Linked DNA regions of Homo sapiens: all the other regions are linked to region 2. The links come from fine-mapping of genetic effects on gene expression. A gene starts in region 2. Each other region holds a variant in brackets. All regions are shown on one strand. Distances are between the middles of the regions.

Region 1 (8,117 bases), 27 kb after region 2:
ACCAGGGTGAGTTTTATGATCTCCATTTCGCAACCGAGGAAACTTGCCCAGAATCTCGCAGTGAATAAATAGTAGAGGTGGGATTTGAACTCTGATCTTCCAGTTCCCAAACTCTGTACCAGGTTGCCCCATTGTGCTTAGGCCTCCCAGTTCTCCATCACCAAGGGGGCTTACAGGAATCAACAGGGGAATGAATTCCTCTTGGACAAGAAGTGGGGTTTCAGAGTTGGTAGTGTCCTGGCTGCAGTGCACAGCACAGATGGCAGGTCTGGGCCTTGGGATTTCTGTGGTGTCTAAGGGAATGGTGGATTTGGCCTCTCAACTTTCTTTACATCCATTCTCTCCAGCAAGAGCTCCTAACTGTTCTGGAAACAAGAATGTTTCCTCCACAATCCCATCACTCTAACAAGCCAATGCTGTGTGTGTCTGCCTGCCTCCTTTCCTCCCTCCTTCCCTTTCCTTCCTTCCTTCCTTTCCTTCCTTCCTCCCCTTCCTCCCTCCCTCCCTCCCTCCCTCCCTTCCTTCTTTCCTTCCTTCCTTTCTCCCTTCTGTCCTCCCTCCCTTCCTCTTTAAGTGTTTCCTCATCTTCTGGGTCCTGTACACAGGCATTCACAAGACCACATGGTTGCAATCATAGCAGAGGCAATTGTATGTTCTGCTTTGTCTATTTTAACTTACACCCTAAGCATTCTTCCACGTTGCTACATGATAATCATAGTTATGTTTGCAGCTGCCTGCTGTCATTCTGGTCTTGCTGCCCCCAGGTCTACCTTCCACTCAGCCCCTGCAGGGAAGTGTCTTAAGATGTGAGTCTGATCCTGTGACTTCTCTGCTTAAAGCCATCACTGGCCTCCAGGACAAAGGATAGACTTCTGGCCAGGTGTGGTGGCTCATGCCTGTAATCCCAGCACTTTGGGAGGCCGAGGTGGGCGGATCACTCGAGGCGAGGAGTTCGAGACCAGCCTGGCTAACATGGTGAAACCCCGTCTCTACAAAAAATACAAAAATTAATGGGGCATGTTGGCGCATGCCTGTAATCCCAGCTACTCGGGAGGCTGAGGCATGAGAATCACTTGAACCCAGGAGACGGAGGTTGCAGTGAGCTCAGATCTTGCCACGGCACTCCAGCTTGGACAACAGAGTGAGATTCTATCTTTAAAAAAAAACAAAACAGGATATGCTTCTGGGCCTGACACCCAAGGCATCCAGACGCTGGCCCTGGTGACCCCCTTACCTCCTCTCCCCCATGCAGCCAGGGTCTTGGCAGGAAGCAGAATTCAGCCCAGATGATTCCAATAAAGAGACTTTAATGGAGGAATGACTTCTAGAGAGTAGGGTGAGGGGACCCAACAAGGAAGTGGGGGACGCAGAGGCCAGCAGCAGCAGCAGACACTCTATGGCAGAGGCACTGGGGTGGCAAGGGAGCTGGGAAGCAATGCCCCGTCTTCCTCCTCTTCCCTCTCTGCCATCTTCTCTGAGTGCCTCCCATTGGCTCAATCCCACTGGAAGCCAGAAGGCCTGGGGAACTGGGACAACAGGGACCAATACGTGTCAGAGAAGGACAGACGATGGACCTGGTGGGTGTGTGGGGCAAATGGAGGACCTCCTGTATACCCCCAGCACCCCCAGGCTTGGGACTCTTGCTGGCATCTGCACCTTTGTAGTGGCAGTGCCCTACTGGATAAACCTGTCAGTCCTTCTCCACCTGGCAAACTCCTGCATCTTCAGTCTCATTTGGACATTCCCGTTTCTGTACCTCCATCGTGGTACTCAACACACAGCAATCAAGACTGCCTGCCCACGACTCTGCCCCCTCCCTGGACCAAGCTCCTTCAAGGAGTGACCCCATCTTTTAATTGTTGAGAGCACGCAGTAAATGGCAGGTGAGCAGGGCTAGGGTGACATGAGTGAGGCAGTAGCCCTTGGTGTGAGATTTAAGCGGGGGAGGAAGGGAGTTTGCTAGAAATCTTAGTAATCAAGACAAAATATTTGAATACAATATTTAAAAAAAAATCAAATCATCAAACTACAGCCCATGGGTTGGCTACCTCTTTTGAGCGCCCACCCAAACTGGAATAGCTCCCAAGACCTCTAGCATGGTGTTCAAAAATTATTTTTGAGTTGGGCGCAGTGGCTTATGCCTGTAATCTCAGCACTTTGGGAGGCCGAGGCGGGCTGATCACTAGGTCAGGAGATTGAGATCATCCTGGCTAACGCGGTGAAACCCCGTCTGTACTAAAATTACAAAAAATTAGCTGAGCTTGGTGGCACGCACCTGTAGTCCCAGCTACTCGGGAGGCTGAGGCAGGAGAATTTCTTGAACCCAGGAGGCGGAGGTTGCAGTGAGCAACCTCCACTCCAGCCTGGGCGACAGAGCGAGACTCTGTCTCAAAAAAAAAAAAAAAGGGTTCACAATGCAGGACTCATCTTTACTTAACATACCCTCTATTCACCCTGATATTTTCTATTCTAGTCTAGTTTATTTGGCGTCATTAAAAAGTGCTGCTCATACCTTTCTTTTCTTTTCTTTCTTTTTTCTTTTTTTTGAGATAGAGTTTCACTCTTGTTGCCCAGGCTGGAGTGCAATGGCATGATCTTGGCTCACCACAACCTCTGCCTCCTGGGTTCAAGCGATTCTCCTGCCTCAGCCTCCCGAGTAGCTGGGATTACAGACATGTGACACCATGCCTGGCTAATTTTGTATTTTTAGTAGAGACGGGGTTTCTCCATGTTGGCCAGGCTGGCCTCAAACTCCCAACCTCAGGTGATCCGCCCGCCTCAGCCTCCCAAAGTCCTGGGATTATAAGCGTGAGCCACCATGCCCAGCCTGCCCATAACCTTTCAAATTCTGGCTTGAAAAACATTGAGCCTGTCATATCATCCTGCTTAATTTTCTCTGCTTTTAGCTGCCTGATACTTCCTTCTTATGATTTGTCTCTTTGCTGATCTCCCGTCTTGCCTTCGGGGTACAGCTCCCTGAAAGCAGGAACCCCATCTAGCTTGTCACTGCTGTCTTCTCAGCTCCGGGAACAGCGTCTGGCACGTAGGCGGCAGGTGTCCCGCAGTGAGCTGTTGAGCAAGCGAGTGAGTGGTGTTGGAGCAGAGGGGATGTGGGCCCTGGAAGCCAGGCTTTTCTAATTGCCTTGTTTTCCTCCCCTTCCCAGTTTGCCCTGGGGCCCCAGCCTGGCCCGGGTCACCCTGGCATGAGGAGATGGGCCTGTTGCTCCTGGTCCCGTTGCTCCTGCTGCCCGGCTCCTACGGACTGCCCTTCTACAACGGCTTCTACTACTCCAACAGCGCCAACGACCAGAACCTAGGCAACGGTCATGGCAAAGGTAGGCGACCTCCTGCACCCGGCTCTTTGCTCCCCTGGGTGACCTAGACCTCCTTGGCTCTTGCTGTGATCTGAGGGTTCCAGGCTGGGACAGGGACAGCAGCCCTGTTCCAGCAGGGCCCTTGTAGTGGGCCAGCTTGCTTCTCAGACAGGGGAAGGGGTGAGTTCATTTTCCTGTGTTCGCCAGCCCCTTCGTCATGGGGCCCAATTCACTTAGGCTTTTTACTTTCCCTAAAAGTCTTGCCAGTTGTTCAAGGTCCAGCTTGAATGTGTCCTCCCCTGGTCCCCCCAGTGGAAAGGGGACCTGGGGTCGAATAGATGTGAGTTTGAATGTTTTTTTTGTTTGTTTTTGAGATAAAGTCTCACTCTGTTGCCGAGGCTGGAGTGCAATGGCACGATCTCGGCTCACTGCAACCTCTGCCTCCCGGGTTCAAGCGATTCTCCTGCCTCGGCCTCCCGAGTAGCTGGGATTACAAGCATGTGCCACCATGCCTGGCTACTTTTTGTATTTTTAGTAGAGAAGGGGTTTCACCATGTTGGCCAGGCTGGTCTTGAACTCCTGACCTCAGGTGATCCACCT[G/T]CCTCGACCTCCCAAATTGCTGGGATTACAGGCATAAGCCACCATGCCTGGCCCGAGTTTGAATCTTATAATTCTACCTCTTACTAGCTGTGTGGCCTTGGGCAGGGAACGTTTTAAAGTAGCAGTTATTGTGCACCCAACATGGGTTGGGCGCGCTTCTAGATATTTTGCATATGTCGTCTCCTGTAATCACAAAAGCCCTGATGTAGGCAAGGGTGAAAATATACCTTTTTTTTTTTTTTTTTAAGATGGAGTCTCACTTTGTTGTCCAGGCTGGAGTGCAGTGGCGCGATCTTGGCTCACTGCAGCCTCTGCCTCCCAGGTTCAAGCGATTCTCCTGCCTCAGCCTCCCAAGCAGCTGGGATTACAGGCATCTGCCACCACACCTGGCTAATTTTTGTACTTTTAGTAGAAATGGGGGTTTCTCCATGTTGGCCAGGCTGGTCCTGAACTCTTGACCTCAGGTGATCCACCCGCCTCAGCCTCCCAAAATGCTGGGATTACAGGCGTGAGCCAACGAGCCTTGCCGAAAATACACATTTTTAACCATTAGTGCAGCACGGGTGCTGACCAGGCTGAATTGATGCTGTCTGCCCTCACAGCCTGAAAGTAGATTCTATTATCATCCCTTCTCATAGATGAGCAAACTAGGCTCAGAGAGTTGATCCAGTTGTCCAGGTCAAACAGCTATTAAAAAGACAAAGCTGAGGGCTGGGTGCAGTGGCTCATGCCTATAATCCCAGCACTTTGGGAGACTGAGGTGAGTGGATCACTTGAGGTCAGGAGTTCAAGGCCAGCCTGGCCAACATACCGAAACCCTCTACTAAAGATACAAAAAATTGGCCAGGCGCGGTGACTCACACCTGTAATCCCAGCACTTAAGGAGGCCGAGGTGGATGGATCACGAGGTCAAGAGATCAAGACCATTCTGACCAACCTGGTGAAATCCTGTCTCTACTAAAAATACAAAAGTAGCCGGGCGTGGTGGCAGGTGCCTTTAATCCCAGCTTCTCAGGAGGCTGAGGCAGGAGAATTGCTTGAACCTGGGAGGCAGAGGTTGCAGTGAGCTGAGATCATACCACTGCACTCCAGCCTGAACGACAAAGTGAGACTCCGTCTCAAAAAAAAAAAAAAAAACACAAAAAACAAAAAATTAGCCGGGTGTGGTGGCGTGCACCTGTAATCCCAGCTACTCAGGAGGCTGAGGCATGAGAATTGCTTGAACCTGGGAGGAGGAGGTTGCAGTAAGCTGAGATCACACCACTGCACTCCAGCCTGGGTGACAGAGTGAGACTCTGCCTCAAAAACAACAACAACAAACTTGTTCCACTTGTTTGTGGAAGGAACGAACCAGATGGCTGGTCTCAGTAATAGCCAGCACCTGCCATGAAGAGCGCACAGCCTGGTTCAGAGACGACACATGAGCCTGCAAGTGCAGTGCTGGGTGTTTCTCACCTTTCCCTCTGCCTTTGAGTAGATGATTGTGCCTGCAGAGGCATTTTCCCTCTTTTGATTAGTCTCCTAGGTCAGCTGTAACAAATTAACACAAACTTGGTGGCTTGAAACAACAGAAATGTATTCTCTCACTGCTTTAGGCACCAGAAATCCAAAATTAGTTTCACTGTGCAGAAATCGAGGTGCGGATAGGACTGTACCTCCTGTGGCTCTTGGGGAGAATCTGTTCTTGCCTTGCCTCTTCCGGTTCTGGTGGCTGCTGGCATTCCTTGGCTGTAGCTGCCTCACTGCAGGCTCTGCCTCCTTGGTCACGTGGTCTTCTCCTCTTTTATATGCAAATCTCCCTCTGCCTCCCTCTAAACAGGTACTTGCGCATTTGCATTTAGGGCCCACCTGGGAAATTCAGGATACCCTCCCCATCTCGACATCCTTAGTTTAACCTCATCTGCAAAGTCCATTTTGCTACATAATTAGGATTTAGGGTATTTTGGGAGGCCATTATTTAGCCCACCACACCCTTTTCCTTCAGAATTTATTTTGTTATACAAGCCCTACTTTATTTATTTATTTATTTATTGAGACAGAGTCTCGCTCTGTCACCTGGGCTGGAGTGCAGTGGCGCGATCTCGGCTCACTGCAAGCTCTGCCTCCTGGGTTCACGCCATTCTCCTGCCTCAGCCTCCCGAGTAGCTGGGACTACAGGCATCCGACACCATGCCTGGCTAATTTTTTGTATTTTTAGTGGAGATGGGGTTTCACCGTGTTAGCCAGGATGGTCTCGATCTCCTGACCGCCTGATCCGCCCGCCTTGGCCTCCCAAAGTGCTGGGATTACAGGCGTGAGCCACCGTGCCCGGCCTACAAGCACTACTTTAATGAGATTTGCGGAATTTAAAAAACTTAAACTTCCTACTCATAGTTTCACTACACTACCAGGCCAACATTTCATTTTTGTCTTTCCCTTTTGTCCCTGAATATGTAAGCAAAGTCATATATAATCCCCCCACCCAGGGGAACCACTGTTAACTTTTTAGGTATCTCTTTCTAGCCTTTTCTTTTTTTTTTTTTTGAGACAGGGTCTCACTCTGTCACACCAGTGCAGTGGTGTGATCTCGGCTCACTGCAACTTCTGCCTCCTGGGCTCAAGAGATCCTTCCACTTTAGCCTCCTGAGTTAGCTGAGACTACAGGCGTGCACCACTGTGCCCAGCTAATTTTTGTATTTTTAGTAGAGATGGGGCTTCACCGTGTTGGCCACGCTAGTCTCGAACTCGTGGCCTCAAGTGATCTGCCCGCCTTGGCCTCCCAAAGTGCTAGGATTACAGGCGTGAGCCACTGCACCTAGCTGAGCCATTCTTTTATGATTTAGAAAACTTTCTCCAACAAAAACCAGCTCATGTCATACATGTGATTTTTGTATTCTCCCTTATCACCTCATAGAATAGAACTCGTTTTCTAAGTCAATGATTGAATGTACATCTACCAGATTATTTTACATGGCTGTATAGTATTTTATCATATGGATGTACATTTTCATTTTATTCAGGTTAAAGCTTCAAAGGTAGTTTACTTAAGAGAGTTGGGAAGAACCAAGGAAGTGGCCCCTAAATGATAGCCCTGCTTCATATTTATTGGACACTTTCTGTGTGCCAGGCATCCTGCCTTACCTGATTTGAACCTTACCACAGCCCTCTGTAGGGACTGTAATTAACCCATTCTACAAATGGGGAAGCTGAGTCTTGACTTCCCTGGATTACACAGCTGGGAAAAGGTGGAACCAAGGGCAAGCCCGAATTGCCTGACTCCAAACCTCTGTACCTACTGCCTCTGCAGAGCAGGACAGCTCTAATCTGAATGAGCCTGAAAGTCCCCTGGAGGCTGGACCCCATTCCCAGAGTCTCTGAGGCACTGGGACCCCACAATGTGCATTTCTGACAAATTCCTGGTGATGCTAATGCTGCTGGCCCGAGGGCCACACTTGGAGACTTCTGCATATGGCAATCTGCTACATTAGGTATAGCTCTTTTTTAGCACGATTCCTCTACAGGGAACCTCCCTGTCTGTCTCCTGCTTACCCATGAGGCTGTCCCCTTGCCTCCACCTTTTTAATTAATTAATTTGTTTTTATTTTGTTTTTGGCAACAGAGTCTTGCTCTCTCACCCAGTTTGGAATGCAGTGGTGCGATCATGACTCACTGCAGCCTTGACTTCTGGGCTGAAACAATACTCCCACCTCAGCCTCCCGAGTAGCTGGGACCACAAGCATCTACCACCATACTCAGCTAGTTTTAAAAATTTTTTTGTAGAGACAGGGTCTCACTTTATTGCCCAGGCTGGTCTCAAACTCCTGGGCTGAAGCGATCCTCCTGTCCTGGCCTCTCAAAGTGTTGGGATTATAAGCGTGAACCACCGTGCCTGGCCCCTGTCCCCACCTTGAGTAAATCAAGCATGTCTTGAAGTCTAGACCCAAGAGAATGAATCAGTGAGGTCCCAACAGGGGCTCCCAAGTTAAAGATGAGGCAGCCTTAGCCTATGAACTTGATTCTTTTGTTGCATGTTGAGTTCTGTGTGTATTTGTAACTCTGAGCCGTGAGCGTAGTCTCCTTTAGAAGTTCTGCCCTTAGCTCAGTAGGCTGCTCCGTATTTGGGAAGAGTTATGGTGGACAGCTGGACCAGAGAGTAAAGCCAGGGCTGTGCTGTCCTCTGGCCAGTGTGGTGGGGAAGGAAACTCCGACGGATCCCTATCAGGG
Region 2 (8,117 bases):
TGTTGTTCTTTTTTTTTCCTCAAGATTGTTTTGGCTATTCTGGGTCCCTTGCATTTCCGTGTGATTTTTTTTTTTTTTTTTTTGAGACAGAGTCTCGCTCTGTCACCCAGGCTGGAGTGCAGTGGTGTGATCTCGGTTCATTGAAAGCTCTGCCTCCCAGGTTCACACCATTCTCCTGCCTCAGCCTCCCGAGTAGCTGGGACTACAGGCGGCCACCACCACACCCGGCTAATTTTTTGTATTTTTAGTAGAGACGGGGTTTCACTGTGTTAGCCAGGATGGACTCGATCTCCTGACCTTGTGATCCTCCCGCATTGGCCTCCCAAAGTGCTGGGATTACAAGCATGAGCCACTGCGCCAGGCCTCCGTATGAATTTTAGTATCAACTTGTCAATTTCCGCAAAAAGGGCAGATGGAATTTTGACAGAGATTGTATTGAGTCTGTACATCAATTTGGGGGTGTACTGGCATCTTAACAATACAAGTCTTCCAACCTATCAACAGGGGATAATTTTCCATTTGTTTAGATCTTCTTTAATTTTTTTGATGATGTTTTGTAGTGTTCAACGTACTTGTATTTCTTTTTCTTTTTTTTTTTTGAGACGAAGTCTCTCTCTGTCACCCAGGCTGGAGTGCAGTGGCACGATCTCAGCTCACTGCAACCTCTGCCTCTCAGGTTCAAGCGATTCTCCTGCCTTAGCCTCCCGAGTAGCTGGGATTACAGGTGCCAGCCACCACACCTGGCTACTTTTTGTATTTTTAGTAGGGACAGGGTTTCGCCATGTTGGTCAGGCTGGTCTTGAACTCCTGACCTCAGGTGATCCACCCACCTTGGCCTCCCAAAGTGCTGGGATAACAGGCATGAACCACCGTGCCCCGCCATGTCTTGTATTTCTTTTGTTAAATTTATTCCTAAGTATTTTATTCTTTTTAATCCTATTGTAAATGGGATTTTTAAAAATTATGTTTTTGGATTGTTTATTTCTAGTGTAAGAAATACAACTGATTTTTGTATATTAATTGTGTATCCTGCAACCTTGCTTAGCTCATTTATTATCTTTAATAGTTGTGTGTTTGTGTGTGTGTGTGTGTGTGTATGTGGATTCTTTAGGGTTGTTTTTTTTTTTTTTTTTTTGAGATGGAGTTTCGCTTTTGTTGCCCAGGCTGGAGTGCAATGGCGCGATCTTGGCTCACCGCAACCTCCGCCTCCCAGGTTCAAGCAATTCTCCTGCCTCAGCCTCCCGAGTAGCTGAGATTACAGGCATGCACCACCACGCTCAGCTAATTTTGTATTTTTAGTAGAGACGGGGTTTCTCCATGTTGAGGCTGGTCTTGAACTCCTGATCTCAGGTGATCTGCTCACCTCAGCCTCCCAAAGTGCTGGGATTACAGGCATGAGCCACTGCGCCTGGCTCTTTAGGGTTTTTGATATACAAGATCATGCCATCTGTAAGTAGAGATAGAGATAGTTTTACTGCCTCCTTTCCAATGGGGATGTATTTTCTGTTTCTTGCGTAATTGTCCTGGCTGGAACCTCCAGCACAGTGATGAAATAGAAGTGATGAGAGCAGAACACCATGTCCTATTCCTGAGCTTAGGGGAAACATTCAGTTTTTCACCATTAAGTATGATAGTAGCTATGGGTTTTTCATATATATACATATATATATATATATGTATATATATATACACATATATATACATATATATATGTATATATATATACACATATATATACATATATATATACACATATATATACACATATATATACACATATATATATACATATATATATACACATATATATATATATACATATATATATATATATACACACTTTTTTTTTTTTTTTTGAGACAGAGTCTTACTGTGTCACCCGGGCTAGAGAGCAGGGGTGCAATCTCGGCTCACTGCAACTGCCGCCTCCCAGATTCAAGCGATTCTTGTGCCTCAGCCTCTTGAGTAGCTGGGATTGCAGGTGTGCACCACCATGCCTGGTTACTTTTTGTATTTTTAGTAGGGACCAGGTTACACCATGTTGGTCAGGCTGGTCTCGAACTGCTGACCTCAGCTGATCTGCCCGCCTAAGCCTCCCAGAGTGTTGGGATTGCAGGCGTGAGCCACTGTACCCATCGGTTTTTCATAGATTTTTAAAAATCAGGTTGAGGAAGCTCCCTTTCACTTCTAGTTTGTTGAGTGTTTTATCACGAAGACGTGTTGGATATTATCAAATGCTTTTTCTGTGATTATTGAGTTGATCCTATATGTCTTTTCCCCATATATATATATATGTTTTTTTTTTTTTTAAGACGGAGTCTTGCTCTGTTGTCCAGGCTGGAGTGCAGTAGCGCGATCTCGGCTCACTGCGAGCTCCGCCTCCCGGGCTCACGCCATTCTCCTGCCTCAGCCTCCTGAGCAGCTGGGACTACAGGCACCCACCATCACGCTCGGCTAATTTTTTTTTTGTATTTTTAGTAGAGACGAGGTTTCACTGTGTTAGCCAGGATGGTCTCGATCTCCTGACCTCGTGATCCGCCTGCCTCGGCCTCCTAAAATGTTGGGATTACAGGCATGAGCCACCACGCCCAGTACCCGCTTCTGAATATTTTAAGAAGGGCATCTTGCCAGTGGACTCTAGTCCCAACTTAGGTCTCAACACAGCTAGGAGGGGAGATGTGTGACTGTTCTATTTTGTTTGTTGGCTAGTCTGACTTAAATACTTATTAGTATTAGTATTGTTATTATTTTTTGAGACAGTCTCGCTCTGTTGCCCAGGCTGGAGTGCAGTGGTGCAATCGTGGCTCACTGCAGCCTCGACCTCTTGGGATCAAGCGATCTTCCCACCTCAGCCTCCTGAGTAGCTGGGACTACAGGCATGCGCCTGGAATATTTTTGTATTTCTTTTTTTGTAGAAACAGGGTTTTGCCATGTTGCCCAGGAAGGTCTCGAACTCTTGAGCTTAAGTGATATGCCTACCTCGGCCTCCCCAAGAGCTGGCATTACAGGCTTGAGTCACCACTCCCAGCCTGAAGCATTATTATTATTATTATTATTATTATTATTATTATTATTATTAGAGACAGAGTCTCACTGTGTCACCCAGGCTGGAGTGCAGTGGCATGATCTCGGCTCACTGGGACCTCTGCCGCCTGGGTTCAAGCGATTCTCCTGCCTCAGCCTCCCGAGTAGCTGGGATTACAGGCACCTGCCACTGCGCCCGGCTAATTTTTGTATTTTTAGTAGAGACGGGGTTTCACCATCTTGGCCAGGCTGGTCTTGAACTCCGACCTCAGGTGTTCCACGTGCCTCGGCCTCCCAAAGTGCTGGGATTACAGGTGTGAGCCACCGCACCCAGCCAAAACACTATTATTAAAATCACTTATTTGTAAACAGGTAATATTTGCACATGATAAGTACAAATCATTTAGTAAAAAGTCAACGGTGACAGGCTTGCTTTGTTTTATTCCCTTTCGGCAAACAGGTGCCCATTTCCTCGCATTTTGTCTATGGTGCCTTTCTTGCAACAAAGGCAGAGATGAATAGCTGCTACAGAGACTCAGGGCCTACATATCAGAGAACATTTTCTATTAGGCCCTTTACAGAAACCTTCGCTGATTTTTTTTTTTTAGTATTTTACCATTTCAGACAATGTTGCTATGCTATCTTTGTATATCTGTCATTTTGCACATGGGAGTTTCTGTAGAATGAATCTCTCTATGTGGAAATGCTAGGTCTTAAGGTGTCAGCATTTGTCGTTTTGATAGGTGTTACCAAATAGCCCTCTAGGGAAGTTGAACTAATTTATACTGTCTTCAGCGAAGCATGCTTGGACCTGTTCCCCACAGCCTCCACTAACCTTGTTAACATCTTGATACTTGCCGATCCGAGAAGGGAAACACGATGCTCATTGTAGTTTTAATTTGCATCTATCTGATTATGAATAAAGAGTTAGCATCTTTTCAAGTCTAAAAATCTTAAAAACAAAACTCCTGAACTTTTCCCGCCCAACAGACTCAAGACTCGTGACCCGGCCGTTGGCACGACGCGGGACGCCGGTGTGGCAGTGGCGGAAGAGGCAGATATCGCGGACCACCCCCGCGCCCCCCAATTCCTTTCAACCAATTCCCTCCCAGCCGCGGAGCCCCGCCCCCAGTCCGCCTCTGGCCAGCTTGGGCGGAGCGCACGGCCAGTGGGAGGTGCTGAGCCGCCTGATTTATTCCGGTCCCAGAGGAGAAGGCGCCAGAACCCCGCGGGGTCTGAGCAGCCCAGCGTGCCCATTCCAGCGCCCGCGTCCCCGCAGCATGCCGCGCCCCCGCCTGCTGGCCGCGCTGTGCGGCGCGCTGCTCTGCGCCCCCAGCCTCCTCGTCGCCCTGGGTGAGTGGATCGCGCCGCCCTCTGCCCCTCGCCCCTCCTCCCCGCGCCGCTCGGAAGTTTGCCCGGCGCCCGCCCTCCACCTCCACTGTTGACAAACTTAGACAAAGCCCCGGGGACCGGGCTGGGCAGAGGGGCGGCTTCTTCCGCTGCGCCCTGGCGGGACAGGGGGATGCGGCCCTGCTGTCTCTGCGCTGGGGCTTTTGGGCTGGGACTCGGGACATCGGGTGACAGCCCTGCCGCCCCCAGGGATGCGGCTTACAGATAATGACAAAGGAATCCGCTGTGTCGGGCCTCTCTTTTCCCTGGTGAAAAATGAGGCCAGGGAACTGCGTTTGACTTTCGAACCCCTTCCACCTGGGAGATTCTAGGACTCTAGTATGGATAAGTCTTGTCTGGATAACTTTGTCCTGGCCATCTCCCTGCCAACTCCAGTTGGCTGGACAGTTCATTGGATTTTTGCGCTCCCAATTGTCCGTGCCTGGTCACATAAGGGAAGGGCCGGGGAGTCGGTGCAATGGACGCAGGCCGTAAGTGGGGCCCGGGAGGGGACCCAGAGGCTTCGAGGAGCTTGGAAGAGGGCTGCCTGCTGATGGGAGTCTCCTGACTCCCTCCCTCCCGCGGCCTTGGCCGGCTGCTGTATCTTCCCCGGTCCTCCTCCGCCTCCCAGGAGGCCTCCGGAGGCCAGCTGGGCCCCTTGCAGGCTGGACTTGCGGATGCCCCGTGCCATTCACCGTGGAGCGCTGGGAGGGAGTCAGGGCCAGGACTCTTTAGGTGGCCCCTCCATCATTTTCTCATAGAAATGGGATTGACTGAAGCAAGGTAGGTAACAGCTGAGCCCCAGCCCTATGTCCTGTGATCTGCCTGACCCTCGGGGCTAGAGCTTCCAGAGTGCTCCAAGCTCCCAGGAACTTGGGAGCTCCTGGCCCTCCCCGGCCACCATGAAAGACAGCTGGATCTTCTTAGCCCCTTTCTACTCTTCCCTGTACCCCCCAACCTGAACTCTGGCCAAATGTTACTGGAAAGTCCCCGAAAGAGCAGGACTCTGAAGTCCCAAAGATGTTTTTATACAGGGTGATGTGGCCTTTTCCAGAAGGAGGAAACACCATACCTATCTTACACACAGGTAACGTGGCTGGGTAGAGTACACCTTTCCCTTTCCCTTTTTCCCACTGGACCGTTTTGCCCTGGAGCAGTGTAGGGAGAGGGCCGGTGCAGTTGGGAGGGAAGAGTCCATTCCCAACCCAAGCCTCTGTCTGTGTCAATGCTCGCCCCCGCCTGCCAGGTCAGAGGAAGGATTACCTGCTATTTAAAGCCAATGACTAATAGCTCCTTGGGAGCCACTTTAAGCTCCTGAGGCCCCTGGAGGGGGAGCTCTGAGGGCAGATCGCTCATTAATGGTGTTGTTGCCTTCCCTGGAGTGGGATGAAGGGGCTTTGAGATTTCAGGAGGACTCTCCAGCCTTAGATGGGTGACTCTGAGGGGGAGGCAAAAAGGTTTTTTTTTTTTTCTTTTTTCTTTTTGAGATGGAATCTTGCTGTGTCGCCCAGGCTGGAGTGCAGTGGCGCGGTCTTGGCTCACTACAAGCTTCGCCCGCTGGGTTCATGCCATTCTCTTTCCTCAGCCTCCCAAGTAGCTGGGACTACAGGCACCTGCCACCACGCCCGGCCCGGCTAATTTTTTGTATTTTTAGTAGAGACGGGGTTTCACCGTGTTAGCCAGGATGATCTGGATCTCCTGACCTCATGATCCTCCCACCTCGGCCTCCCAAAGTGCTGGGATTACAGGTGTGAGCCACCATGCCCGGCCAAGGCAAAAAGATGTCTCATGTCTTGCTCCAAATGACAGATTTGGGTGTAGGGTCTGGGGCAGCCCTTCTGGGATGCTAATGTCGGCTAGAGGACTCCTGTTGGGCCCGGCCGACCCACCAGAGTCAAGGGATTGAGGACAGGCCCTCCTGTTCCTTCTCCTGTGTTCTCCACCACCGGGGCTGATAGTGTACATCTGTCATCCAGGTTCCCATCCAGAAGCCCTGGTGGCCTCTCCAGCCCTTGCCCCCTGGTGGTTCTGAAATCACCCTTCCTTTTCACTCCTCTGCCCTGACTTCCTCTCTCACCATGCTCTCCTGCTCTCCACCTTCACCCTCTTCAGTGGGATTTCTGCATTTCAGCCAGAGGGACCTGTCTGCAGCTACCAGATGCTCCCCACCCTGGGAGAGCTCAGCGGCATGTCTGCACATGGGCCTTTTCAGCCTTCTTCATCCCGCAATTGGAACTGACTTTCCCACTCCCATCTCACACTTGAGAATCTCTGTTTCTTGTTTCTTGTTTTTTATTTTATTTTTATTTTTTCTCCCCCCTGGTGGACAATGGTGAGGAGGGTGAAGGAAGGTTAAAAGCCACTGCTCTACGGGATGAAAAACTAAACTTGTCATTCTTCAGATCCCTCCCAGTCTGGCCCCAGCCTACCCTTCCAGCTGCATCTAACTGTGCTCCAACATACCACACCCTCTGTGCATCTGCTTTTCTTGGAACATTCTTTACTCATTGCCCAGTCTGGCACCCCCCTTACTTTGTCTTCTAGACCCAGCTCAAATATTCCCTCCTCTGGGGAACTTCTAATTCCCCAGCAGAAATCATGCCTCCAGTGACGGTCCATGCAGGCTTCTGGAGCGTTGGGCAATCTTCCTCATCTGTGGACTTGCTGGCCTCTTTCCCCTTGGCTTCTTGAGGCCTGCGCTGCATCTGATTTCTCTGTCTCGGGGGCCTAGCATGGTCATTGGCCCTCCCAGTGTTTCCTGGATGATCATCGTGCTGTTCCTGAGTCAGGGCTGCCATTGGAGGTGACATCTGTGACTGCAACCTGTGCCTGAATTGGTGGGCGGAACCTGCTCAATGGGCCAGAACAATGCTTCCTTCCACTGCCCCTGCCTGAAAGTCCTCATGGGCCTCCTTTGCAATCAAACTGCTGCCAAGAGACCTGCCCTGGACCTTGCCTGCCTCTCCAGACCCCAGCTGCCAGCTCTTCCACCAGTGGGCAGTGGTCCCCAGCACCACTGCCATTGTCAGCCAGCACTTTTCTGGACACTCCCAGGCCACTTGGAAAGCTGGGCGCTTCCCTTATGTGGGCCGATTCGCCTACACATGGACTTCCTTGGCTCTAGGCGGACTCAGGCTCCATCCAGCACACGGGGGAAGAGGGAGAGGAAGAGATAATGGGCGAGTTTGAGTGGAGGGTCCTTTTGGGCTGGACCCATCTGCTACTTCTCACCTGTGTCCCCAGCTCCTTCCTGATCATCTGCTCATCTTACCTGTCTCTGTCCCCAGATATCTGTTCCAAAAACCCCTGCCACAACGGTGGTTTATGCGAGGAGATTTCCCAAGAAGTGCGAGGAGATGTCTTCCCCTCGTACACCTGCACGTGCCTTAAGGGCTACGCGGGCAACCACTGTGAGACGAGTGAGTATGTGGGGGTGCTTGTTGCCTGTTTCTAGCAGTAGACCCTGAGCCACAGCCCTGGTGGCATAGGCCATATGCTGGCCTTATTCTCTGCCTGTGATCCCCACCCCAGTGGAGGTGTCAAGGCCTCCTCTGGGGAGACTCAGAGAGAGAGACAGAGCCTCAGTTAGACCGAGGGGGGAAAAGGGTCCTGTTGTTTCTTCCTTCTTTCTGCCTGGCCCTCTTTCCTGAGACTGCCGGCCAGGCCTGATGCTGATGCAGAGGAGTGAGGGGTTGTGGTCACCC
Region 3 (8,117 bases), 27 kb before region 2:
TAATTTTTGTATTTTTAGTAGAGATGGCGTTTGGTCATGTTGGTCAGGCTGGTCTCAAACTCCTGACCTCAGGTGATCTGCCCACCTCAGCCTCCCAAAGTGCTGGGATTACAGGCATGAGCCACCATGTCTGACTGACACCTTATAATATTTAGGAGAGATAAATATGAAACCACTTGACCAACGAATCTAAACAATAATGTATGTTAAGAATTCTGAAGACATTTCTAATTTTATCAATTAAAACCAGCTTATTAAGGATTTACTTAAGTCACATGAACTTGAGAAAGCATTTGGGCTTAAAGTTCCTATTTTTCTGATAAAGTTTTTTTTTTTTCTTTTTTTTTTTGAGACAGAGTTTTGCTCTTGTTGCCCAGGCTGGAGTGCAATGGCACGATCTTGACTCACTGCAACCTCCGCCTCCCAGGTTCAAGCAATTCTCCTACCTCAGCCTCCCGAGTAGCTGGGATTACAGGCATACGCCACCACACCCGGCCAATTTTTTGCATTTTTAGTAGAGATGGGGTTTCTCCGTATTGGTCAGGCTGGTCTTGAGCTCCTGACCTCAGGTGATCCACCCACCTTGGCCTCCCAAAGTACTGGGATTACAGGTGTGAGCCACCATGCCTGGCCCTGATAAAGTATTTAAGAGCTTTTTTAAAAAAGTCAATTAATTAGAGCTCTTTTATATATTTTTGGTAGTGAAACATCATATACATGACACATAAATACATGGACTTATTAGACATGCAGATAGAAGCTCATAGATTCATAAGACTCCCCTTTTCAGTCTCCTATTTTAGAGTTCTAATTTCTTGATAATCCGTGTCATTTCCCTAGGCAATTGTCAGCTAGATAGCTCTAAATTTGCATACCAAAGGAACAACTCTAAGTGAAAATCAGAGAGTGAAATTTACATCTCAAAGTACAGACGAAGTCTAGGTGTGTTAGCAGGAGATTAAAAACGGATACCAAGCCAAACATAAAATGATAGAAAAATACCATAGGATTTGATAAGGAGACAAATTTTGTTTAGATAGGTAGTTTTAAATTTACTCTCTATCTTTTAACTGGACCTCTGAGCTCTGGGTGGAGCCCACACTGAATCCTAGTTCTCCAAACAGAGTGACATCATGGGACTAGGCCATGTAATGTGCTTAACGGTGCACTGTTACAAAGATATTTCTCTAAGTGTTTAAACCACACCACTGAGGAGAATTGCTTGAACCAGGGAGGCGGAGGTTGAGGTGAGCCGAGATCGCACCATTGGGCCATGAGACCTAGGTTTGATACCTGACACTGGAAAGGGATTAACCATGAAGACTTCAGGAAGTCACTTAACCTCTCTTCAGCTCAATTTCTTTACTGAGATGCCAATCTACATAGACTAATAATTAGCCTCAGAGGGACTAGCGTATAGTATACATGTAATACATTATTATCATAATTTCTATAGATTGGCCAGTATGGGAAAATAAGAGAAAACTACCTCAAACCTGCCGAAGGAAGTTATGGCAAATTTCCTAGATCTCAATTGTCTTAAGCCAGCCAGGCTGACAAGGGAAACACATTCTATGCAAAAGGAATTACATATGCAAAGAGACAAAAGTATGGAAGATAATGACATGATATTGTATCAGGAACACAACATTGAGGTAACTTGGTCAGGGCATGTCCAGAAGGGTCAGAAGGTGAGCTGGAAAATGTCAGTTGGGGCCAGATCATTACAGAGTACTCCATCTTGAGTATATCACTTAAGAACTTTAAGAAAAGGAATGCAGCTCTCCCTCTCCCTCTCGCTCTCCCTCTCCCGCTCCGTCTCCCTCTCCCTCTCCCCACGGTCTCCCTCTCATGCGGAGCCGAAGCTGGACTGTACTGCTGCCATCTCGGCTCACTGCAACCTCCCTGCCTGATTCTCCTGCCTCAGCCTGCCGAGTGCCTGCGATTGCAGGCACGCGCCGCCACGCCTGACTGGTTTTGGTGGAGACCGGGTTTCGCTGTGTTGGCCGGGCCGGTCTCCAGCCCCTAACCGCGAGTGATCCGCCAACCTCGGCCTCCCGAGGTGCCGGGATTGCAGACGGAGTCTCGTTCACTCAGTGCTCAATGGTGCCCAGGCTGGAGTGCAGTGGCGTGATCTCGGCTCACTACAACCTACACCTCCCAGCCGCCTGCCTTGGCCTCCCAAAGTGCCGAGATTGCAGCCTCTGCCCGGCCGCCACCCCGTCTGGGAAGTGAGGAGTGTCTCTGCCTGGCCGCCCATCGTCTGGGATGTGAGGAGCCCCTCTGCCTGGCTGCCCAGTCTGGAAAGTGAGGAGCGTCTCCACCCGGCCGCCATCCCATCTAGGAAGTGAGGAGCGCCTCTTCCCAGCCGCCATCACATCTAGGAAGTGAGGAGCGTCTCTGCCTGGCCGCCCATCGTCTGAGATGTGGGGAGCGCCTCTGCCCGCCGCCCCATCTGGGATGTGAGGAGCGCCTCTGCCCGGCAGCTGCCCCGTCTGAGAAGTGAGGAGCCCCTCCGCCCGGCAGCTGCCCCGTCTGAGAAGTGAGGAGCCTCTCCGCCCGGCAGCCACCCCATCTGGGAAGTGAGGAGCGTCTCCGCCCGGCAGCCGCCCCATCCGGGAGGGAGTGTGGGGGGTCAGCCCCCCCGCCCGGCCAGCCGTGCCATCCGGGAGGGAGGTGGGGGGGGTCAGCTCCCCGCCTGGCCAGCCGTGCCGTCCGGGAGGGAGGTGGGGGGGTCAGCCCCCCGCCCGGCCAGCCGCCCCGTCCGGGAGGGAGGTGGGGGGGGGTCAGCCCCCCCGCCCGGCCAGCCGCCCCGTCCGGGAGGTGAGGGGCGCCTCTGCCCGGCCGCCCCTACTGGGAAGTGAGGAGCCCCTCTGCCCGGCCAGCCGCCCCGTCCGGGAGGGAGGTGGGGGTGTCAGCCCCCTGCCCGGCCAGCCGCCCCATCCGGGAGGGAGGTGGGGGGGGTCAGCCCCCCCGCCCGGCCAGCCGCCCCGTCCGGGAGGTGAGGGGCGCCTCTGCCCGGCCGCCCCTACTGAGAAGTGAGGAGCCCCTCTGCCCGGCCAGCCGCCCCGTCCGGGAGGGAGGTGGGGGGGTCAGCCCCCCGCCCGGCCAGCTGCCCCGTCCGGGAGGGAGGTGGGGGGGGGTCAGCCCCCCTGCCCGGCCAGCCGCCCCGTCCGGGAGGTGAGGGGCGCCTCTGCCCGGCCGCCCCTACTGGGAAGTGAGGAGCCCCTCTGCCCGGCCACCACCCCGTCTGGGAGGTGTGCCCAACAGCTCATTGAGAACGGGCCAGGATGACAATGGCGGCTTTGTGGAATAGAAAGGCGGGAAAGGTGGGGAAAAGATTGAGAAATCGGATGGTTGCCGTGTCTGTGTAGAAAGAAGTAGACATGGGAGACTTTTCATTTTGTTCTGCACTAAGAAAAATTCCTCTGCCTTGGGATCCTGTTGATCTGTGACCTTACCCCCAACCCTGTGCTCTCTGAAACATGTGCTGTGTCCACTCAGGGTTAAATGGATTAAGGGCGGTGCAAGATGTGCTTTGTTAAACAGATGCTTGAAGGCAGCATGCTCGTTAAGAGTCATCACCAATCCCTAATCTCAAGTAATCAGGGACACAAACACTGCGGAAGGCCGCAGGGTCCTCTGCCTAGGAAAACCAGAGACCTTTGTTCACTTGTTTATCTGCTGACCTTCCCTCCACTATTGTCCCATGACCCTGCCAAATCCCCCTCTGTGAGAAACACCCAAGAATTATCAATAAAAAAATAAATTAAAAAAAAAAAAAAAAAACCACACCACTTATTATCTTAAAATATGCAAGAGTAACCCCTGTACAGGGTAATCACGATTTTGGTAAAAAAAAAAAAAAAAAAAGATCAGGTAACATAAGAACAAGCAGTTGAAGATCTGTAAACCAAAAATAAAGTTCCAAGCTCCTCACCCAACTGAATGATCATTCCTCTTGGCCAAGGGCATTCCAAAATGAAAGTGAAAAACTAGTTCAGCCCATGATGGGAAGCAGGAGTCAGACATGCCCTATTATACCCTCTGACCATTGCAATTCAGGCACCGCTGACCAGCACTAACATCAACACAGACCTTAAGACCGATAGAACAGTCTGATAATAACACTTTCTAAGTCTGATAAGAAACATTTACGATCTACTCTCTCTGAATCTGGACTGAACCAATGTACATCTTATATGTATTGATTAATATCTTATGCCTTCCTGAAATGTGTAAAACCAAGCTGTAGCCCTATGACCTTGGGCACATGTTGTTCAAGACCTCCTAAGGCTGTGTCACAGGCTCGACCTTAACCTTGGCAAAATAAACTTCTAAACTGATTGAGACCTGTCTCAGATACTTTTGGTTTACAGATCTGAGAGGAACTTGTCTGTTTACACTCTTGGGGTTCCATAAGGAAAAACAGAGGTTTCTCCCAAAAAGAAACCTGGCGCCTTCTCTGTTTTCTTAAAGGAATCCTAGGCTGTTAGGAACTATTTATGTCCTTCATGCAGCAGAGGGTGGTAAGAGGAAGGAGAGACAGGCAGAAGTAAATGGACAAAACAGAATTCAGTGGATTGAGAAGAAAAAAACCTTTTTCTCAAAAATCAAGAACCTAGGAGAGAAAAAAGTGTGTGTGTATATATATATGCTTATATGTGTGTGTGTATATATATCTTAGATATTAGCTTTTAGTTAAGCTGACTTAACCATTGAGCTCTTAAAAAATCCTTTTAAATCTCCTATTATCATATTTTTGCTGGGAAAAACTGCTGATAGTTTGAAAGTAACACAAATATCAAATTAGAAAGGACTTGACTTAGGAACCAAACCCAGGCTGTCACCATGTAAAAAACAAGAGGCAGAATCATAGCTACAGAACTACAGCACGGACAGCTGCCATTGCTCTGTCAGTTTGGGCTTGGCTAGCAAAAGGTGGCCTTGTCATGTAAATAAAACTCCTCAGATAGTCAAAATCTTCCCCTTCCCTTTCCCTTCTCTCTCTCTCTCTCTCTCTCGTTCTTTCATTCTCTC[A/G]TTCTTTCTTTCTCTCTCTCCCTCTCTCTTTCTTTTTTTCTGTTTCTTTTTTTTTCAGCTGCAGGGATTTCGCAAATTCAGAGACCTTGTTTCCCATGATTTGGAACTTTCCTTTGGATTTGACCAAGTCAGGTAGAGTTGGTCAAACCCAATGGGAAAAAGATGGAAACTGACTTTACCCTGGGCCTGGAAGCTGGGGGTGGTGGAGGGTGGTGAATAACTCTGCCCTTCTCAGGCCCAGTCCCAAAGTAAAGACCACTTGCGCCAGCGGCATGCGTCAGCAAGATAACAGAAGCAGGAAGCAAGCTAGCTGGCTGGAAGGCAGGTACCCCCTGAAGACCGAGAGAAAGGCTGTCCGGGTACGGCGTAGCAGTTACATCAGACTGAGACACTTCCTGTTTACAGGAGACTATAAAATCTCTGCCCCATCCTCCTTAGGTGCTGAGCCATTTTAGGCCTCAGCCTGTCTGCCCCCACGCGGTGCGCCTTAAAACTGTGTTGCTCTACACCGCCTTGTGTTGTTTGTTGGCGACTCTCGAGGTTCGAACTGATACAAGAGCCATGCAGAAACAAACAAACAAACAAAAAAACAAAAACAGAAAGAAACAAATGAACAAAAATAAGCTAAGAGAAACAAACAATTGCACAGTTCATATGATTACTCAGCACTCTAATGGTAAGGAGAAATTAAGACCAGCTGGCTGTTAATCTTAACTTTTAGTCATTAAAAAGAATTTCCTGGCCGGGCCCGGTGGCTCACGCCTGTAATGCCAGCACTTTGGGAGGCCAAGACGGGCGGATCAGGAGGTCAGGAGATCGAGACCATCCTGGCTAACACGGTGAAACCCCGTCTCTATTAAAAATACAAAAAAATTAGCCAGGCGTAGTGTCAGGCGCCTGTAGTCCCAGCCACTCGGGAGGCTGAGGCAGGAGAATGGCATGAACCCGGGAAGTGGAGCTTGCAGTGAGCTGAGATTGCGCCACTGCACTCCAGCCTGGGCGACAGAGCAGCGAGACTCCATCTCGAAAAAAAAAAAGAATTTCCTAGAGAAAACCCCAATTCAGCTACTTACCTAAGAATGGGGCCCAGGCTGAAAACTGCTACCATCCTAGAAGCAGGAGAAGACTCAAACTTGCCTTCCCTGTTGGAAATGAGCTGAGACTCCCAGAAAGGAGTTGCCTGCCTTCCATTATCATGGAAGCAGGAAAACTCACCTTCCTTGTTGGGAAGCAAGTAAAACTCCAGAAGAGGCATACAGCAGAATGAATCTTACATACAGCAAATGTGCCATAAATCCCTTCTCTGGGAGAGTTTTATGGTCTTGAAGAAGACAGAAGGCCCACTCATACATATATAGACAAACGTTATCACACATTTTCCTATCTCCTATTTGTTCTCCTGAAAACTCCTTGTCTTTCTTAAATAACCTATTTGTTTCAACAGTCTTGCTCTGTCGTCCAGGCTGGTGTGCAGTGGCGTGATCTCAGCTCACTGCAACCTCCAGTTCCCAGGTTCAAGCGATTTTCCTGCCTCAGCCTCCCAAGTAGCTGGGATTACAAGTGTGCACCACTACGCCAAGCTAGTTTTTGTATTTTTAGTAGAGACGGGGTTTCACCATGTTGGTCAGGCTGGTCTTGAACCCCTGACCTCCTCTTGGCCCGCCTTGGCCTCCCAAAGTGTTGGGATTACAGGTGTGAGCCACCGCGCCCAGCCCAAAATAAATCTTAGATCTCAATCAACATTTGGATCAGAGGTTCTATGGAGGGGGGAAGGTCCCAGGCCTTAGAGAATTGTTCTATTGGTTTGAGCAATCAAGATAGCCCAAGCTGGTGCCAAGCACTGAAAGGAGATTTGTCAAACATCCGGGCCACTGCCACTCAGAGTCCCTTCTGTTGGTTGCCAACTTGTAAACCGAAAAATATCTGAGACAGGTCTCAATCAATTTAAGGACATGTTCTTAATCTTGGAAAAATAAACTTGTAAATTAATTGAGACCCATCTCAGATACTTTTTGGTTTACAGGGGAGAACATCCTCGCAGAGCTGAGTGGGGAAAACAGGTTCTGCCTTCTCCTTGTGTCTGCCCCCATAGGAACACCCCCATTTCCATAGCATGGGCTGCCATTTTACAGCTGATGGTTTTCACATCTATCTGTAGGGATCAATTCACTGCAATCTCTGACTCCCTGGTTCAAGGGATTCTCCTGTCTCAGCCTCCTGAGTAGCTGGGATTACAGGCACACGCCACCATGCCCAGCTAATTTTTGTATTTTTAGTAGAGACTGGGTTTCACCATGTTGGCCCGGATGGTCTCGATCTCCTGACTTCATGATCCGCCTGCCTAGGCCTCCCAAAGTACTGGGATTATAGGTGTGAGCCACCACTCCTGGCTACTCCTTGGAGCTTTATTTTCAACTGCCTAGATGGCGTAAGCACCTCAACTTTACCTGCCCAAATGCTAAGATCAAGGGAAGAATGAACTTCCCCCTATTTTCCACCTCCAGATAGTGGCATAGAAGAAGAGCCAGCCCCCACCCGCTAGCCCATGAATGCAATTGTGCATTTATAAGTGGTAATTTCAAAGCCTCTGCCGTTTCTTTGTGTGTGTAGCTGACAGCAGCCTTTAAGAAGTCTTGGCTCAACCTGGGACTCTTTCTTGTTCCTGGCAAGCCCTAGGGTGAGTGAAGTATTAGCTGAGGATTGGAGAGGTTGCCTTACAAACTATAGGGCTCTTACGAATGGTTTCCTTTCCTTTTTAGGGTTAAGCAGTACTATTTCTGAGAAGGAAAGTTTGCCCTTTGGAAATAGGTGGGTGTCTGATTCAGCAAATATAAGCTGGATTATCAGAAAAATGATCTGCAACTCACTTTGCTTGTGAGATTTTGAAGGGGTCTGGACTTCATGCACCAAAGCTCATGTGGCCAAAGGCCACCACACTCCCTGGCAGGAGCCCCCCAGGCATTAATCTAGATTCTAGATTCTAGACTTAGACTTGAGGGTGTACTGGGAAATGAACCTGGCTCACGACCCATGCCTCAGACAGTTCCTCTTCTAAGGTTAGGGTACACTTGGAGAGT
Region 4 (8,117 bases), 550 kb after region 2:
CTTTGGGAGGCTGAGGCGGGGAGATCACGAGGTCAAGAGATTGAGACCATCCAGGCCAACATGGTGAAACCCCGTCTCTACTAAAAATACAAAAATTAGCTCGGTGTCTAATTACAGGCAGGTGCCTGTAATCCCAGCTACTTGGGAGGCTGAGGCAGGAGAATCACTCGAACCTGGGAGGTGGAGGTTGTAGTGAGCCGAGATTGCGCCACTGCACTCCAGCCTGGCAACAGAGCAAGCCTCCATCTCAAAAAAAAAAAAAAAAAAAAAAAAGATGGGGCACCTCCACCCCTTCCCTACTTTTCTTTGCCAGAATTAGGACCCAAATCTAGAACCAAAATGTTAAGATTAAGTAGGTAAAAGGAGAGGCATGGAATGCTGAGTCCTGGCCACCACATTATCTTATCTGGAAAAACTAGGTCTTTGGGGCACGTCAAGCAGTAGACAGATAAATGACAATGGATTTCTTTTCATGAACAAGTAAGGTTCCTCTCTCTGACCTCTCCTTGGTCCGGAGATTCCACATCTTTGAGTGGAAGTCAACAATCCTTTTCCCGGGTCAGATTTTCCAGATATGAAGACCAAGAGGGCCTGGTCATTGTAACAGCCTCTTTCCAGTTGATCACAGACACTGGAGCTTTGAGGGTCTGAAGATCCATGATGAACAGGAGGAGTGTCCACCCGTTAGGCATCTGCCAGGTGGGCTTCCCGCCAACGAATGACCCTCCTTATCACTTTTCAGGAGTACAAATACAAACAGCCTGCACAGGGTGCATCAACTGGGAAAGCCAAAACCACCCAGGACCACCTTACATCTGTCGTAGTGATCTCATGTCCAGCCACTACAGGGACATTATTCTCTGGCACTGCTGCCTCTGCTGCCGGCATCTCTTATCCTTGGGGTAGAGCGCAGGGACAGATTTTCCATCAGTGAAGGGCATGGAGGCTAATAGCACAGATCCTTTTTCCTTGGAAAGTCTTAAGGAGTTGCATATGAGGGTGTGGGGAGGGAACCTAAAAACACACAGATGCAACAAAATCAGATCCCACTGTCCGGAGACCACCAGGCTCATGGCAGCAGCTGAGAAGCTTACCTTCTGGGCCAGAATTTTGGGCTAATGTAAACTGAACTAGAAGGATAAGAGGCCCTGCTCCATGACCTGTTGTGGGATACCGTGATTCAGATACTAGGGCCAAGATGCAGAGGCTGAGAATGGAAAAAGGCTGCAGACATTTCCTTTGCAATGTAGGAAAGCCTAGATTGTGGAGAACCCGGGGCCTGTGGTCTCGGACCCCTCATGGTGCCAGCACATAGTAGGCCATTTAGTATATGTTGCCCAGATGAAACAAGTGGCTTGGCTTGAGGAGAATGCCAGAGGGGGGCTGATACGGGTACCCCCAAACCCAACAGGCAGGGTGGATTAGTTTGTTCTTGCATTGCTATAAGGAACTACCTAAGACTGCGTAATTTATAAAGAAAAGGGGTTTAATTGGCTCACGGTTCTGTAGGTTGTACAGGACGTGTGGTTAGGGAGGCCTCAGGAAACTTACAATCGTTTCAAAAGGCAAAGAGGAAGGAGGCACATTTTACATGGCTGGAGCAGGAGGAAGTGAGAGGCGGAAGGTACCACACACTTTTAAACAACCGGATCTCATGAGAACTCACTATCACGAGGACAGCAAGTGTGAAGTCAGCCCCCTTGATCCAATCATCTCCCACCAGGCCCCTCCCTCAATACTGGGATTACAATTCAACATGAGATTTGGGAGGCGACACAAATTCAAACCAAATCACAGGGGCTTCCCTTCTTCCCATGTTCTGGCTGTGAGAGGTCACTGAGTCTCTTCACTTCTCTGAGGCTCCAGCTTCGACATCTGCAAAGCGGTTCATGATATTGATTTTGTGGGCTTGCTGTGAGGACTCAGTGAGATGACAGGTGTGCAGCGGGGGCACACTGCAGCCCTCATCAAAGTGTAGTACAGTCTAGTGCTGAAAGCCCCGGATTTGGAGTCAGACAGCCTTAGGTCCCATTCTTGCACTGCCCTTCCTAGCTGTGTGACCTTAGGGAAGTTACTTAATCTCTCTGAGCCTCAGCTTTCTCATCTGAAACTGGATAAAACAGTGCCCATTTGTATCAGTTTCCTATTGCTGTTGCAACAAATTATCACAAATGTAGTGGCTAACAAAACAAAACAAATTATCTTACAGTTCTAGAGGTCAGAAGTCCTCAACGGGTCTCACCAGGCTAAAATCGAGGTGTTGGCAGGGCTGATTTCCTTTATGAAGACTCCAGAAGAGAAGCCGTTTCCTTGGCTTCTCCATCTTTCCTTGTGTCCTGCCTTATGGCCTCCTCCATCTTCAAGGTGAGCAATGGCTGGTCTGGTTTTTCTCACATTGCTTCATGCTGATATTCTTCTCTCTCTTTCCTTTTTAGTGATCCTTATGATTACATTGGACCCATCCAGATAATCCAGGATAATTTTTCTATTTTAAAGTCAGCTAATTAGCAAACTTAATTCCCTCTGCAGCCTTAACCACCGCCTCCCTGCATCCACCATTCCCCCATCCCATGTAATATAACATATTCACAGGTTCTGGAGATTAGGATGTGAACATCTTTGGGGGCCATTATTCTGTCTGCCACACCACTTCAGGGTGTTGCTGCAAAGATTAAATAAGGCAGTACACGTAACCCCTGCTGATGTAAGGTAAGAGTATAGCAAACTGTGGCTGCAATCATCATCATCATCATCATCATTTTGCCATTTTAGTCCCCATTCTCTCCTTTGCTTCACAGGAGGAAAGCATAGGCCTCGTCCCTCTGTGAGGACCACCAGGTGTGCTGTGGCAGATGAAGCCTCACAGAGTTTCCAGCATGTCTTGCTGCTGACATTGGGCTCTCTATCCTCACATGCCAGAGCCCAGGACCGTCTCTGCTTGTAGACACGGAGCACAACCTGTCAGGAGGAGGAGACCAGCTTCATCTATCTCCCCCAGCCTGCTGTACTCATTCCACGGATCCTGGCTGGAGAGACGCTCCTGGACGTGTCAGAGCAGTTATGAGGACACGTTTCTGAGAGGCTTGCAGCTTCCTAATGTTCTTCCTGAGTTCGTGAGACTGTAAGCTCAGCCCGACTCCGTTGAAAGATGGGCTAATAAAATGGCTTCTTAGACAATGTGCCTATTAGTAATGCAACAGGATGTTAATCAGGAGAGGGGAGGGGGTGCTCACCACTCTCTTCCAGCTGAGGGAAAGGAACCTGTGGACTCCAGGACACGGGATAGAATGAGGTGACAGAGCTGTGCTGAGAGATCACTGTGTCCTCCAGAATTTGCGTGGCATAGGGGCAGGGACCGACCCTTGCCTAAAAGCATCTAAAGGCTGGAAGTAAATAGAGCTGCCTGTCTGGTAAGAATAGGGAGGGCGGGGGGAGGGGACCTTCCAGATTCCAGTTGAATTTTTCCGTGCCTTAAGAGGGTGGTGGGATTGAAGCCATTTGGAAAGGGGCCCATGCAAGAAGGACCCCAACAAAATGAAGTTGCATGCATTGTGCCACTGGATGTGAGCTCTGGAAGGAGGGGTGAGGCAGTTGCCTGAAAGTACTTCCCTGCACAAGGACATCATGCGGAGAGGTCCCCAAAGCCAGAGGGCAGGGCGTCCAAAACCCCTACAGAGGGCACCAGTGGCAGACTGCAACCATACCACTCATGATAACTTTTTTTTTTTTTGAGATGGAGTCTTTCTCTATTGCCCAGGCTGGAGTGTAGTGGTGTGATCTCGGCTCACTGCAACCTCCGCCTCCCGTGTTCAAGCGATTCTCCTGCCTCAGCCTCCTGAGTAGCTGGGACTACAGGTACGTGTCACCATGCCCGGGTAATTTTTGTATTTTCAGTAGAGAAGGGGTTTCACCATCACCAGGATGGTGTCGGTCTCGTGACTGTGTGATCCACCCACCTGGGCCTCCCAGAGTGCTGGGATTACAGGCGTGAGCCACTGCGCCCGGCTGATAACTTCTTTGACCCTTATTTTCCTTCTCTCCCATCCTCTGTCCCATTCCTAGACAAACCAGGTGCAGCAGGAGTGAACAGGGCAGAAGGTGATACAAGGAGAATGAGGAAAGCCACCACATCTTCCTTCTCCAGTGCAGTTTCCAGGAATAGGGAAGGGAGGAGCTTCAGCTCAAATAAGAGACTGAACTTTATTTATTTATTTATTTATTTATTTATTTATTTATTTATTT[ATTTATTTATTTATTTT/T]AAGATGGAGTTTTGCTCTTGTTGCCCAGGCTGGAGTGCAATGGCACAATCTTCGCTCATTGCAGTCTCCGCCTCCCAGGTTCAAGAGATTCTCCTGCTTCAGCCTCCTGAGCAGCTGGGATTACAGGAGCCCGCCACCATGCTTGGCTAATTTTTGGTATTTTTAGTAGAGATGGAGTTTCACCATGTTGGCCAGGCTGGTCTTGAACTTCTGACCTCAGGTGGTCCACCTGCCTCGGCCTCCCTAAGTGCTGGGATTGCAGGCATGAGCCACTGATCCTGACCTAGACTGAACATTTTCTACCTGACTTTTCCAGATTTTTACTACACACAAAAACTGTTAATATCTAAAAGTAACCAAAGAAAATAATTGTATCTATATATATTATATCATGGGCAGAGAGGAGATCAGTGTTGAGAATTTTAAAAAAAGCAAAGGTGTTCGTGTTTGTAAACCAAGTGAGATTTATCTGATGAGCTGGCTTCAATAATTATCATCCATATCAAGGTGATACTTAAAGAGGCATCCTCACCTCACGGAAGTCTCACCACAGCACTGTGAGGAGGACACTTACTCTACTGCTTCACATTCAACATAACGGAGGCTGAGGCTTAAATGGCACACCAAGGTCACCCAGCTCCTGAGGAGTGGACATTTGATCTCTGGGCGGTCTGGCACAGAATGCCTGCATGAGCCACAGATCTCAGTGGGTGAAGTCACGTGGCAGGTGACTTCCCTTTATGACCTCAATGTCATTTCCCAACATTTAGGGACGGTGAAAAAGAGGGTGTCAGGGAAGGAGGCTGAGCTTGTGAGAAGAGAGAGACAGGGGAGCAGAAAGTTTTTTCTGACCTTTGCTGCATTTTGGTTTGTCTGTCTGCCAAGACTGGGAGTTGTTAGGTTGCCCAGGGGGCATTCTGTGGCGGTGTCAGGGAGTTCTGGGGGACGCAGGATTAAAGGTGGTGTGGCAGCACCTGCTGTAAGAGAGGCATGGTGCAGAACAGAGGCCACGGTGCTGCTCTTGGCGCTGGGACCCAGGGGTCCTCATCCCTGCTTCACGCCAGCCAGCCTGCCAGCCAGGTGACTGTGGGCAAGCCACCCCACCCCCTGAGCCTCAGTTTCCCCATCCAGAGCCAGAAATCCTATCTGACTACCTCCAAGTAGTGGCCACCTGCCCTGACTACCTTGAAGACGTGACCATCTGAGCAAGCCCTTTGTGAGCTCTGTGGCCATGACAAACTGGGACAAACAAATGGCTGGGCCCTGATGTGGGTCTTGCCCTGGTTTGGCAACCCTGCATCCAGACATTCTTTTTACCTGGGAGGATTCATGCACTTGGAGCATCTTGGTGAGAGGCAGAAGCCCACTTCGCACCAGGAGAAGCAAAAGGTGACACTTAACTTCCTCTCCTGGAATCCACGCCTATCACTGCTGCCCCCACAACACACACACAGCCCTCATCTGGGGCCTCGGAGGTTCTTCATCTGCAGGGGCCTCAGTTTCTTCATCTGCACAGTAAGGATAGTAATAGTGTGTCCGGAGTTGGTTCCTTCCAGCGGGTTCGTGATCTTGCTGACTTCAGGAATGAAGCTGCAGACTTTTGTGGGGAGTGTTACAGCTCTTAGAGGTGGTGCGGACCCAAACAGTGAGCAGCAGCAAAATTTATTGTGGAGAACAAAAGAACGAAGCTTCCACAGGGGCTGGCTGGCGGCAGGAGTCTGGGTGGGGGTGGGGGGGGCACCTTTTATTCCCTTATTTATCCCCGCCCATGTCCTGCTGATCTGTCCATTTTACAGAGTGCTGATTGGTCCATTTTACAGAGCACTGATTGGTCCATTTTACAGTGTGCTGATTGGCCCATTTTACAAACCTCTAGCTAGCCACAGAGAGCTGATTGGTGTGTTTTTACAGAGTGCTGATTGGCACATTTTACAAACCTCTAGCAAGCCACAGAGCACTGACTGGTGCGTTTTATAATCCTAGCTACAGAGTGCTGATTGGTGCATTTTACAATCCTCTTGTAAGAGGATTGTAAGACAGAAAAGTTCTCCAAGTCCGCACCTGACCCAGAAGTCCAGCTGGCTTCACCTCTCAATAGCACCTCCCTCACGGGGCTGTGGGGAGAATGAAATGCAAGCCTCTCTCCTGTGCTCCCCACAAATGACTGGAGGTGGCTATGATTAACTTTATTGTTCTGCTCTTGCTAGGATGCTGGCTTTCCCTGCTGGGCTCTGGAGTCTAATCCAGGGCCTTTTCCCATCTCTGAGGCATGGGCACAGAAGGCCTGAGGTTGACTTCCTTGAATGCTTCGGCTTCTCAGTAAAATATGGGTTCTGGCACAAGGAAGCAAGGAGTTCAGGATATTTGGCACCAGATGTGTAAGCACCGAAGTTTTCAGCAGCCTCACATCTGCTGCTGTCAGCACTGGGTCAGTCTTGCCCATCGCTCACTGATGCTTTGTGTTATGGGCACTCTGGCCCCCTACCCTTCCAGCTTTCCTGGGTCAGACCCAGCACATTATCAAGGTCACCTCGGCACCATGATCTGGGGTCCTGGACAGAAGGGGTCTCTATGTGGCAGACTCTCAGAGCGCAAAGAGGCACGAGAGCCCCTTTTTCTGACTTCCTCCTTTACAGATGAGGAGACCAAGTCCACTGAGGGAAAAGAGCCTCAGGATAGTGGAAGTGGGATGGAGCCCAGTCTTTGGACTGCAGGGAAAATCCCTTGGGCCCACACCCTCGGCCAGTGTGTCCTGGAGGCTTGCATTCACACACATGTGTGTGCCTGTGCCATCTCATTCTTCCCCTTTCCTCCTCCTTGACGTTTGTCATGAGCACATGCAAGATGCAGGGATTCCCACCGTCTTCCTCCTTTACGAGCTGTGTATTCTGAAGCTGCACATACCTCTGTTGCTTGCCCGACCCTGGCCCCCCACCCCTCTGCCCTCCCTCTGATTTATCTCTCACGAGACTCCTGGGATGAGCTGCAGCACTGAAGGCAGATGTATGCCCGGAACATCTTCAGCTGACTGCTCGCTCAGGCTGTGATCACTTATAATCACCGGGGGCCTCATCAGTAGATTTCTTTCCTGAGCTTGCAGTCCAGGGTCAGGTGCTTCCGAGAGGTAGCGGAAACAGACAAATCCACAATGGAAACAACCAAGTCCAACCAAAGGAAGGGGAAAGGGCTAGTGGGAGAGCAAGGAGAGGAAAAAATATTTCATTGAGTGACTCTTCAGCCCCAATCTCTCACTGAATTCTCACAGCTGCTCTACAGGTTATTTTCCTCTTTTACAGGCGGGAAGAAATGGCTTCAGAGAGGCTGTGAAGGCCACAGGGCAAGCAGAGGCTGGAACCAGGAGTCCAAACCAGGTCTGTCTGCCTCCAAAGTTCATGAAAACCTCTTTGTCACAGTTCAGTCAAGTTTCTGGAGAAGAATTTAACATGTTTGGGAAAAATCCATTGTATCCATTGTAAGAAGGAAGAGTTTCTCACTTTGTCCTTGATTTTTCTTCTTCAGAAACTCTTTTTCTTTATAAACTGATGTCTGTTTTTCATTTCCTCTTTCTCTTTCTCCTTCGCCACCTCTCTCCTTGCTTTCTCTTTTCACTTCTGTGGCTAAGGTTATCAAATGTCCTGAGTTGAGTTGCTTGTGGAATCCAAGGGCCCACGCAGTCATCTCTCTGGGTAGAGAAGCTGGTGCAAGCAGTGGGCAGGAGGAAGAGGCTGCCTGGTTGGTGTGGGCAGGAAGGGGACAGGCTGGCCTGGGAGGTGCCCCAGCTGCTCCTGGTTGCCTTGGCCTCTGGCACTCCCTAGACTGGGGACCGATGGCCAAATGGAAGAACCAACAGGGTAATGG

The links.
Region 1: its variant is fine-mapped to the expression of MFGE8 in whole blood (TOPMed, PIP above 0.99).
Region 3: its variant is fine-mapped to the expression of MFGE8 in whole blood (TOPMed, PIP 0.98).
Region 4: its variant is fine-mapped to the expression of MFGE8 in monocytes (Schmiedel 2018, PIP 0.95).

The regions. Positions count from the first base shown.
Region 1 is chr15:88,882,393-88,890,509 of GRCh38, reverse strand. It overlaps HAPLN3 (hyaluronan and proteoglycan link protein 3), which reads left to right. Exons shown (of 5, transcript NM_178232.4): 2 at 3,165-3,335. The coding sequence starts at 3,212. Among named protein-coding and RNA genes, the nearest start is that of HAPLN3, 9.1 kb to the left of the region's middle. RefSeq lists an enhancer at 4,537-5,248. The variant G/T (reference allele first, on the strand shown) is at 3,915.
Region 2 is chr15:88,909,507-88,917,623 of GRCh38, reverse strand. It overlaps MFGE8 (milk fat globule EGF and factor V/VIII domain containing), which reads left to right and starts at 4,245. Exons shown (of 8, transcript NM_005928.4): 1 at 4,245-4,377; 2 at 7,701-7,832. The coding sequence starts at 4,305. RefSeq lists an enhancer at 4,504-5,035.
Region 3 is chr15:88,936,409-88,944,525 of GRCh38, reverse strand. No RefSeq gene overlaps it. Among named protein-coding and RNA genes, the nearest start is that of MFGE8, 27 kb to the right of the region's middle. The variant A/G (reference allele first, on the strand shown) is at 5,041.
Region 4 is chr15:88,364,478-88,372,594 of GRCh38, reverse strand. LOC105370959 (a long non-coding RNA gene) reads right to left here. Exons shown (of 3, transcript XR_932590.1): 3 at 7,939-8,117. Among named protein-coding and RNA genes, the nearest start is that of MRPL46, 99 kb to the left of the region's middle. The variant ATTTATTTATTTATTTT/T (reference allele first, on the strand shown) is at 4,243.